Linked DNA regions of Homo sapiens: region 1 is linked to region 2. The links come from fine-mapping of genetic effects on gene expression. Tissue or cell type: whole blood. Region 2 holds a variant in brackets; the other region holds the start of a gene. All regions are shown on one strand. Distances are between the middles of the regions.

Region 1 (5,000 bases), 120 kb after region 2:
CTTACCTGGGTATGTCATATACACGGTCTGCGATCCGACTTCCAACCTGAAGGATTACACGAGGCGTAGGTTAACGGGGAAGTAACACTCTTTTTCCAGTATTCAACAATCCACAAGTTACTTATGTTTTAAAATAAGTACTTCCCTTTATCCCCTTTTCAATTTCACCACAGGAACTTTCTTCTCAAACCACCAGGAAACAAAATTGAGGCAAATTATTTCAGAAGTCAATTTCATGAAATCCAGACTAAATATTCTTAAAAATATACATATACACACACACACACACACATATATATATGTGGCCTTTACATTCCATGTGACATAAGATCACAAGGATGAAAAGCAAAAGGAACACAACAGGCACATTACTGTCCACGGATATTAGCATGAGGTACACAAAGTGAAAAATTAGTTAGTTGGGGTTTATTGTAGATGAGTATGTAAGTGGTCACTTAAGAAAAACTCTATTATTTGATGACTAACAAATTTTGTGGAACTCATAAATGAACAACTTTTCTGAGTGACATTCGCAAGTTAGAAAAAGCCAAATCTGAGGAAAGTGCACCTCCCCTGCTCCAATCCCATCCCAATTTAAGAGTCATAAGGTAAGCACCACCTTTTGCTGGCCTAGCTTCATCTGGTAGCAATAAAGACGTGGGAGTCTAGTATTCCCCACATTCCACTCATTCCCTCATAAACACCCCAGAGTTGCTCTTAGGACTTAAAAGTTCCAAACACAGATGTACCTGCTTTTTGAGAGAAGGGCAAGGGAGAAGGGAGCGTAGATGTTTTTCCCAGGAGTCCACCTTGTACGTCATTCCTAATATGAACACCCTATGTTTATTATAAAAAGAACTCTCATATACTTTATCTTATTTGTTCTAGTCTCACAAATTGGCGAGGCCTCAATCAAGTTGTAGTCCAGGTGCTTTCTTTGGAGGGAAAGGGCTATGAGCGCACATCTTCTAAGTACACGACATCAGCAGTGTAGTACGTGCACCATGCCTTACAAGTGAGACACAAAAAATTTATTGGTAGTAAACTTCCTATAATAGACATTACCAGCCTAAGACTTCCTGAGAAAGACACCCTGTCAATCATCTGATCAGACCTGTACTTGCACAGAGCTCTGCTCAAGCTATGAGTTCAATAACTGTTTGTTGCATTATACTTGACTCCAACTTTGTTCCACTCCTGAATAAAAATTTACTGAGGCCTGAACTTGAGAATGCGTGTCCTGAAAGTAGAAACCCTCAGTCTCTGGCTCACCTGGGCAGGGAGAAAGGTTTCTCAAACGAGCCAAGACAAATCAGAAATCTTAATTTGATCTTCCTAAAACATAAGTCAGATCACTCCACTGATTAAAACAAGAGCTTCACATTCCCCTAGAGCAGTGCTGACCAAAAATCATGAGAGCCACATATGTAATTTCAAATTTTCTAGTAGCCACATAAGAAAAAAAGTAAAAACGAGAGAAATTTTAATTGAAAAATTTAAATTTATATTTAATATATTTCATGTGACCCAATATATCAAAAATAATCACTGCAACATGTAATCAATATAAAAGCTCTTAATGAGCTATTTTACATCCTTTTTTCATACTAAGTCACTATACTCGTGTGTATTTTACAACACATCTCAATTGGACTAGTCACCTTTCAAGTGTTCAACAGCCACATGTGTGGCCGGCAGTTACCATACTGGCTGGACAGTGCAGATACAGAAGAAAACCCCAAGTCCCTATCCTGCAAGGCCCTGATGATTTGGGTCCTCCTAACCTTCTCTCCCACTCTCTCCCTCTCCGGAGCTTCACTGGAGGCCTCTATAAGGTCCTTTCAGCCTCAAGGACGTTGCCGAAATGAATGCATGAATGAATGAAAGCATGTTACAAATATCCGAGGCCAGGCCTTGCGTGATTACAGTAGAGGCCGAAAGAGGCAGGGCTGCTGGTCAAGGTCAGACGGCTAGGTGGGGTGAGCTCGGGGCCTAGCCGGAACTAGCGGAGAGGAAAACAAGCCTCCGCGTCGCCCGCCCCGCCGCCCCGCCGCCCCGCGGGCTCACCTCCTCCTTCAGGTAGTCAAATTTGGTCGGCTCGGGCTGCCGGGCTGCCCAGTTCTTCTGTTTCCTTTTCAAATCCCGGTCGAAAATATTCAGGGTTCTGGGCGAGGTGCTACCGCGGGGAGAGACACCAGAGGTGACTTCCCTACGGCCAAGATTCTCCGCTGGGACCCTCGCCGCCCAAGGTCGCCGACATAAGCGCCAGAGCCCTGCCGGCCGCAGCATCTCCAGCTGCGACCCCAATTGCCGGCGCTTTTTGTGCGCATGCGCCAGCGCGGCTTTTGTGTCTACTCCAAAGATCTTCTCGAGGGAACGTGCAAGTAGTTTGGCCTAGTTCGCTTGCCATTACGGCGGAGCGTCACGCGGAGGATTGTGGGTGTGAGCCCCACGTGAGGCTTGGTAGGACTGCGGACGGTGAGTGGGGATGGACTGGAGTTGAAGAGCTCGAGATGAAGGGCTTGAGGGCGTGTGTGTGTGTGGCGCGGGGAAAAAACTAGTCTCTAACAGGATCTCTTTCGGATCTGCGAGGGGTTTTGCCCCTTCCTCCTGAGCCTTTTTCGGTCTCATTCTTCAGTCTTCATCGATCCTTTTCAGGGTCGCTTCTCGAATCAGTCTGTTAGCTGCCCCCCTGCGGTACAGGAGGTGGAAAGGAGACCCTAGTTCAGGGGCCAGCCCTGTGTTCTCCGAATTAGAGAGCGGGCAGAAGGGGAGGGTGGGCTACGGGGATGCGGGCGCGTGTCGGGAGTGAGGTCCGGTCGCCTTCCCCTCTCTCGGATTATCTGACATATAATGAGTGCTTTCCTTCTAAACATTTACAATACATGCAGTACTTCTCCTGGTTGAGGTGGTACCTACCTCGTAAGATTGCTCAGAGAGTTAAGTGCTGTAATACATCGAAAAATGTGTAAATGCACCAGCGATAGCTTCCTTTTTTTTCCTAGTTAGTGTAATTAAAAGGACTTGATTTTTAAATAAGAAATATTGCCCTTTTAATCATTTTGGGGGGGGGTTGCTTAATAATCAACGACTTTTGGCTCTTTGCAAAATTCCCATCCAGAGATGCTAAACCATTGGAGACTTTTCACAAGGGAACAATATTAATTTATACACACATATGTATATGTTCTAGTATGTTTTGGGGGAATGAGCTCACTTGGGCCTTCATCACTGGTAGAATCAGATATTATAGAAAGAAGTGATATTTATTAACTGGTGTGAGACTTTACCTGGAGACTCAAATTTACTTTTTATTTTTAAACTTTTTATTACTTTTGAAGGATGATCGAATTTAAAAAGGAAACTTTCTTAGCTAAACCTGAGTTGATTTTGGTCTGTTTAGTTAGAATGCTAGTCTTACAGAACTAAAGGCTGTTTGTTGGCAGTAGCCGGAGATAAGGAGTAAGCAGAATGAGACCAGAATGTGAAGAAACAAATGAGGCCAACGGAGGCTAGGGAATCTTTCTTTCTTACTTTTTTTTGGTAGACAGGGTCTCACTCTGTTGCCCCAGCTGGTGTGCTGTAGTGCCGTTAGGCTCACTCTAGCCAAGACCTCCCGGGTGGAAGTGATCCTCTTGCCTTAGCCTCCAAAGTAGCTGGGACTACAGGCGCGCGCCACCATGCCGGGCTCATTTTTGTATTTCTTGTGGGGATTCACCATGTTACCCAGGCTGGTCCTGAACTCCTGGGCTCAAGTGATCCGCCCGCCTTGGCCTCCGAAAGTGCTGGTGAGCCACCGCACTCGGCCTAGGGAATCTTAACTACATTTGCCTTCAATTAGTAACACATACTGGTATACAAATAGAAATTCTAAGTGAGAGCAATGGATGAATAAACATTTGTTCCCCTCCATAAAGCCCTGGGATTCTGCTTTGTCTACCTTAAGTTTATTTCTCTAAATGATCTGTCATGGAAAGAGGATATTTTGGTATGTTTCTGCTTTTTTGCATGTGACCCAGAATACGTTGGAGAGATGAAATTAGACTTGTTACCTCTATTTTATGTACACTTAACTTAGAATATATTAACTTAGAATATATTGTGAATGTGTTTTAAAACATTTAATTATTGTACTAACCATTATTACCATTAAAACATTTGTTTTATTTTTCAGTATTTGTTTTCTTCAAGCATTTGGTCGAGATTAAGAATTAAAAATGTCATCCAAACAAGAAATAATGAGTGACCAGCGGTTTAGACGGGTTGCAAAGGACCCGAGATTTTGGGAAATGCCAGAAAAGGATCGAAAAGTCAAAATTGACAAGAGATTTCGAGCCATGTTTCATGACAAGAAGTTCAAGTTGAACTATGCCGTGGATAAAAGAGGGCGCCCCATTAGCCATAGCACTACAGAGGATTTGAAGCGTTTTTACGACCTTTCAGATTCTGATTCCAATCTCTCTGGTGAAGATAGCAAAGCATTGAGTCAAAAGAAAATAAAGAAGAAAAAAACCCAGACTAAAAAAGAAATCGATTCAAAAAATCTAGTTGAGAAAAAGAAAGAAACCAAGAAGGCTAATCACAAGGGTTCTGAAAATAAAACTGATTTAGATAATTCTATAGGAATTAAAAAAATGAAAACCTCATGTAAATTTAAGATAGATTCAAACATAAGTCCGAAGAAGGATAGCAAAGAATTTACACAAAAAAATAAGAAAGAGAAAAAAAACATTGTTCAACATACTACAGACTCTTCTCTCGAAGAAAAACAAAGGACATTAGACTCAGGCACCTCTGAAATTGTGAAATCTCCCAGAATCGAGTGTTCTAAGACAAGAAGAGAAATGCAATCAGGTAGGTTGGAAAAAATTAGAGATTCTTGGGTGTTACATTATTTATTTTTATACTGATCTTTCAAAAATGTAAACACATTAATAAGTATTTTCATAGTATTATGGAATGGTCAAATGCTTATCTGGAAATACAAAGCTATAAAAGAA
Region 2 (5,000 bases):
CCAAAGTACTGGGATTACAGGCGTGAGCCACCGCGCCTGGCCGGAATTTTACTTTTCATACACTTGCATTGATTAATTTGACAAAAATATTTTAAAAGTTAAATTTAGATATTAACTCTCTCCTCTCAAAATAATTGTTTTTAAAGAAAAAACCAGACGTTTTTTCTTCTACTAAAAAGGGACCAGCAATTTGGAAAATGTCAAATTCCAGGTGTGGAGAATAAATGTACAAGATGATCTTAAAACATCTTATCATACCTGATAGGAAGGATGGTGTCAGGAAATTAGAGTCATGACCAAGGGATGGAGGATCCAACTCAAATAGGCTCCCACCGGCTAAAGCTGGAATGATCAAGCACCAAAATGAATAATGATCGCAATGGACTGAAACATCTAAAATCATTTAAATCCATTTGTTCATAATGATACCTAGAAACAACACTTATTCATCACTTCAGGGGACATTAAAGAACCAACTCACATTATTTTGAAAACTGATCAAGGGAGTCAAGTATTTATCTTGCCTATTCTGCACAATAGAGTATGGGTGACATTTTTCTTTATAGAATTATTTCAGCTAATAAATGAAGAAGGAATGACAGAATTATAATGTCTTCATTGCCACCCCTAATCAATCAGTGGATCCGAGATAGGAGGTGGGACTCGATTCCAGAGGTAGAGCTTGGACACTGGACCAAATTGAGTACTAGCTAAAGCAGGGATGAGGTGGAAGCAGCTTTCCATAAGACACACCCACTAGTGTGCCATGTCAGTTTACCATTGCCATGGCAACACCCTGGAGTTACTGCCCTTTTCCGTGGCAATGAGCTGACAACCCAGAAATTACTACCCTTTTTCTGGAAATTTCTTCATAAACCACCCCTTAATCTATATGTAATTAAAAGTAAGTATGAAGGCCAGGGGCAGTGGCTCATGGCTGTAATTCCAGCACTTTGGAAGGCTGAGGCGGGTGGATTGCTTGAGGTCAGGAGTTTGAGACCAGCCTGGCCAACATGGTGAAACCCCGTCTCTACTAAAAATACAAAAAATTAGCCGGGCGTGGTGGCGGGCGCCTATAATCCCAGCTACTCCGGAGGCTGAGGCAGGAGAATGGCGGGAACCTGGGAGGCAGAGCTTGCAGTGAGCTGAGATCGTGCCAATGCACTCCAGCCTGGGCGACAGAGTGAGACTCCGTCTCAAAAAAAAAAAAGAAAAAAATTTGCAAAAAAAATTTAAAAAAAAGATTCCACAAAGAAAAATCTCAATTTATTTGAGAAATGGTAGCTTTGACTAGAAGCAATAAAACTACAAAATAATGACAAAAAGATAGCTTAGTCACATTTTTTATAAAATTACAAGTCTCCTAATTAATAGCAAAATAGAAATTGAAATAACATATTAAGCACTCAATCATGATGATAATACTACATAGTAAAAGTTACAGAATAGGGCTAATGCCAGACGCAGAAGAAAATATACAGCTTTACGTGTTTTAATAAACAAGAAATGGCCAGGCACAGTGGCTCACGCCTGTAATCCCAGCACTTTGGGAGGCTGAGGCGGGCAGATCACGAGGTCAGGAAATCGAGACCATCCTGGCTAACACGGTGAAACCCCGTCTCTACTAAAAATACAAAAAATTAGCCGGGCATGGGGGCAGGCGCCTGTAGTCCCAGCTACTCGGGAGGCTGAGGCAGGAGAATGGCATGAACCCGGGAGGCGGAGCTTGCAGTGAGCCGAGATCGCGCCACTGCACTCCAGCCTGGAGGACAGAGCAAGACTCCGTCTCAAAAAAAAAAAAAGAAAGAAAGAAAGAAAAAGAAAAAGAAAAGGAAAAAAAATTAACTCTAGCAAAATAAAGGTAGGACAAAAGGATTAGTAAACAAAAACTGAAATCAATATAATGAATTCGAGAACAAAGTCATTTATTTCATAAATAAAAACGAGATGATTCTTTAGTTCTTTAAAATGCTCCCAATAATGGGGACAAAACTCTAGCTGCTACTCATATAATAGGTGCATTTGGTTGTTGCCAGGTGAGCCCCCAATGACCATAAACAAGGAGGATTTAACAAGGGGATTTTATTACTTGAAACAAGTAAGGAGGACACCGGAGGTAGTGCCCCAAAGCAGTGCCCCTACAAACAGGCGTGAAAACCGAGCATGTCTTGGGCTGGTCAGCTGAATCATTGCGTGTAGAGAGGGAGTCCTGGCCGCACAGGCACAGCGGCGGATTATGTTTCTACATATGTCGCCTGTATAGAAAATGGAGAATAAGCTCCTCCCTGGGCCGGGTTTTTAAGATTATAACAATAAGAGTTCGCCAAAGTTCATCTCCTACTCAGCCATCTCTGGATCCAACTGTTTTTTGTTTTTCTGGGGCCGAGCTTCTCCAGGAACTTTTTGAAACAACAAGAACTCAAGGTGCAACAGTTACAAGTGGGCACTTTTTCAGTGTGTACCAGAAAACCCAGGGCCCCTGAGTTACATGACCAGTCTATCACAATTTTTTAAAAATAACTAATGGATAACATTGCAAATTTAAAAATAAAACCACAGATTGAAAGAAATGTAAGCAATTATGAGACAGTGCTATATTCAACTTTATGTGAATACATTAAAATCTAGATGAAATAAAGACATTTTCCAGAAAATATAAATCAGTTCCTCCTGTAGGGTATTATAGGTCACACTCATATCAGTGTGGTAGGAGCCTTGACTAGACCTATAACTATGGAACAAACTGAAAATGTCAAAGATAAGCCTCTCCAAAGACACTACACTCAGATGGTTTTACTGGGAAATTCTATAAAATAAAACCATCAGAAATTTTTTTCTATTATGTAAATCATTTTTAAAAAAGAAAATCTTTAAAT[A/G]TCATTCCAAAATGCCTTAATAAGAATCCAGAAGAGTAAAACAGGCAGATTTCATTTATGAACACCAATATAAGTTTTCTAAATAAAATTTTAGCGAATTGAAAAGCATGAAATTTAATCAAGTAGGATTTTTAACCAGAAATATTAAGATAATTCAACATTAAGAATACATTTTTGTAGCTTAATCTCAATAAAATAGCACCCTATCACTTTCTACCTACTTATCCTGCTTCAGTTTTCTTCATGGTACTTGCTGTGGTTTGAGTGTTTGTGTCCTCTCCAAAATCCATGTTGAAACTTAATGCCCAATTTAACAATATTAATAGGTGAGGCCTTCAGGAGGTGATTAAGCCATGAGGGTGGCACCCCCTGTATAGGACTAGGTGCCCTTATAAAAAAAAGGGCTTGAGGGAGGAAGTTCGTTCCTTCTGCCCTTCCACCCTCTGCCAGGGAAGGACACAGGCTTTGACTTTCTTGTTGATTTCTGTTACCTCCAGTGCAGAGGACAGTGCCTGGCACCATCTGCTTAGTAAATGCTGGTTAAGTGAATTTTATTATTATGCTAAGAAGAAAAAATATAAATAATTATAATACATGCTGAAAATAGAGTGATAAAATTCAACATTTGTTTCTGATTCTAAAAGTTAGTAAACTGAGAGCATTTAATTGAAATTATTAGCAAAATGTAATATATAATAGCAAACCACAACAGACATCCATATTAAAATCAGAAACAAAAAAAAGAATACATGCCATGACCACAATTCATTACATTGTTCTGGAAGTTTTACCCAATAAAGTAAAAGGAAATAAGAGTTACATGAAGGAACTTACAAAATTATTATTTACAGATGATATGTGTCAATTTAGTATACTCAAGAGAATATTTAAAAAACAATGGGTTAGTGTCACATGGCATCTTTTTAAATATAAATAAATAAATTGTAAAAATAAAAAACAGGCTGCGCACAGTGGCTCATGCCTGTAATCCCAGCACTTTGGGAGGCTGAGGTGGGCATATCACCTGAAGTCAGGAGTTCAAGACCAGCTGGCCAACATGGTGAAACCCCATCTCTACTAAAAATACAAAAATTATCTGGGCATGGTGGCAGGCACCTGTAATCCCAGATACTCGGGAGGGTGAGGCAGGAGAATCTCTTGAACCCGGGAGGCGGAGGTTGCAGTGAGCCGAGATCGGGCCATTGTACTCCAGCCTGGGTGACAAGGGCGAGACTCTGTCTCAAAATAAATAACTAAAAATAAAAAAACAATGGGAAGCCATTAAAAGGTGCTAAACAGGGCCCAGGTGACATAAGTAGATTTGGCTCTACCCATAAATGAAGAATGGACAGGAGGAGAACAAGCCTGGATACTACTACAATTGTCCTGATGAGAATTGAGACTAGCTCACAATAGCAGGTGCTGGAAGAAATGAATTAGAGAGATATTGTAGAGGTGAAATTCACTGGAAGTTGATGGTAAATTGGTTACTTGGGGTAAGAGAGTAGAAGGTATCTCAGATACCTCCTGTGTGGGGTTATAAATACGAGAGTTCTGGGAAAGAGAGCCGGAGACTCACTATACAGAATGTAGACTCTTCTAATACTCCTGTTTTCAGCCTTGTTCTTCACCCATATTCTTTAATGTGTCTGTGTCTCAAAGTCTGAAGTTTCCTTGGTTTAATTTCTCCAGGGAATAAGCCTCCCATCTCCAGTGGGGTCAGGGGATGGGCTATCTGCCTGGCTGCACAGGACAGGGGTTAGGACTGCTCTTTTTATAGACTTCTAATCAATACCCATGTGTCAGCTCCACCTACTGGGTGGAAACTAGACTCTTTGAGAGTCTGCTTTATGTTCTTTTGGTTATATACCCAGAAGTAGAATTGCTGGATCATATGATAATTATATTTTTTAATTTTTTAAGGAAACTGCATACTGTTTTCCATAGCAGCTGCACCATTTCACATTCCCACTAACAGTGCACAGGTTCCTATTTCTCCCCATTCTCACCAGCGGTTTTTATTTTCTGGGTTTTTTTGGGGTGTGTGTGTGTGTGTGTGTTTATAGTGGCCATCTTAACAGGTATGAAGTAATATCTTATTGTGGGGTTTTTTTTTGTTTTGTT

What was found. PIP is the estimated chance that this variant, and not a neighbour inherited with it, causes the effect.
Region 1: it holds the start of NDUFAF5, and the variant in region 2 is fine-mapped to the expression of NDUFAF5 in whole blood (TOPMed, PIP above 0.99).

The regions. Positions count from the first base shown.
Region 1 is chr20:13,782,358-13,787,357 of GRCh38, reverse strand. NDUFAF5 (NADH:ubiquinone oxidoreductase complex assembly factor 5) reads right to left here and starts at 2,330. Exons shown (of 11, transcript NM_024120.5): 1 at 2,068-2,330; 2 at 6-46. The coding sequence starts at 2,289. It overlaps ESF1 (ESF1 nucleolar pre-rRNA processing protein), which reads left to right and starts at 2,439. Exons shown (of 14, transcript NM_001276380.2): 1 at 2,439-2,478; 2 at 4,175-4,854. The coding sequence starts at 4,218. RefSeq lists enhancers at 1,420-2,109, 2,105-2,394.
Region 2 is chr20:13,897,878-13,902,877 of GRCh38, reverse strand. All of the region lies in intron 5 of SEL1L2 (SEL1L2 adaptor subunit of SYVN1 ubiquitin ligase), which reads left to right. Among named protein-coding and RNA genes, the nearest start is that of SEL1L2, 90 kb to the left of the region's middle. The variant A/G (reference allele first, on the strand shown) is at 2,877.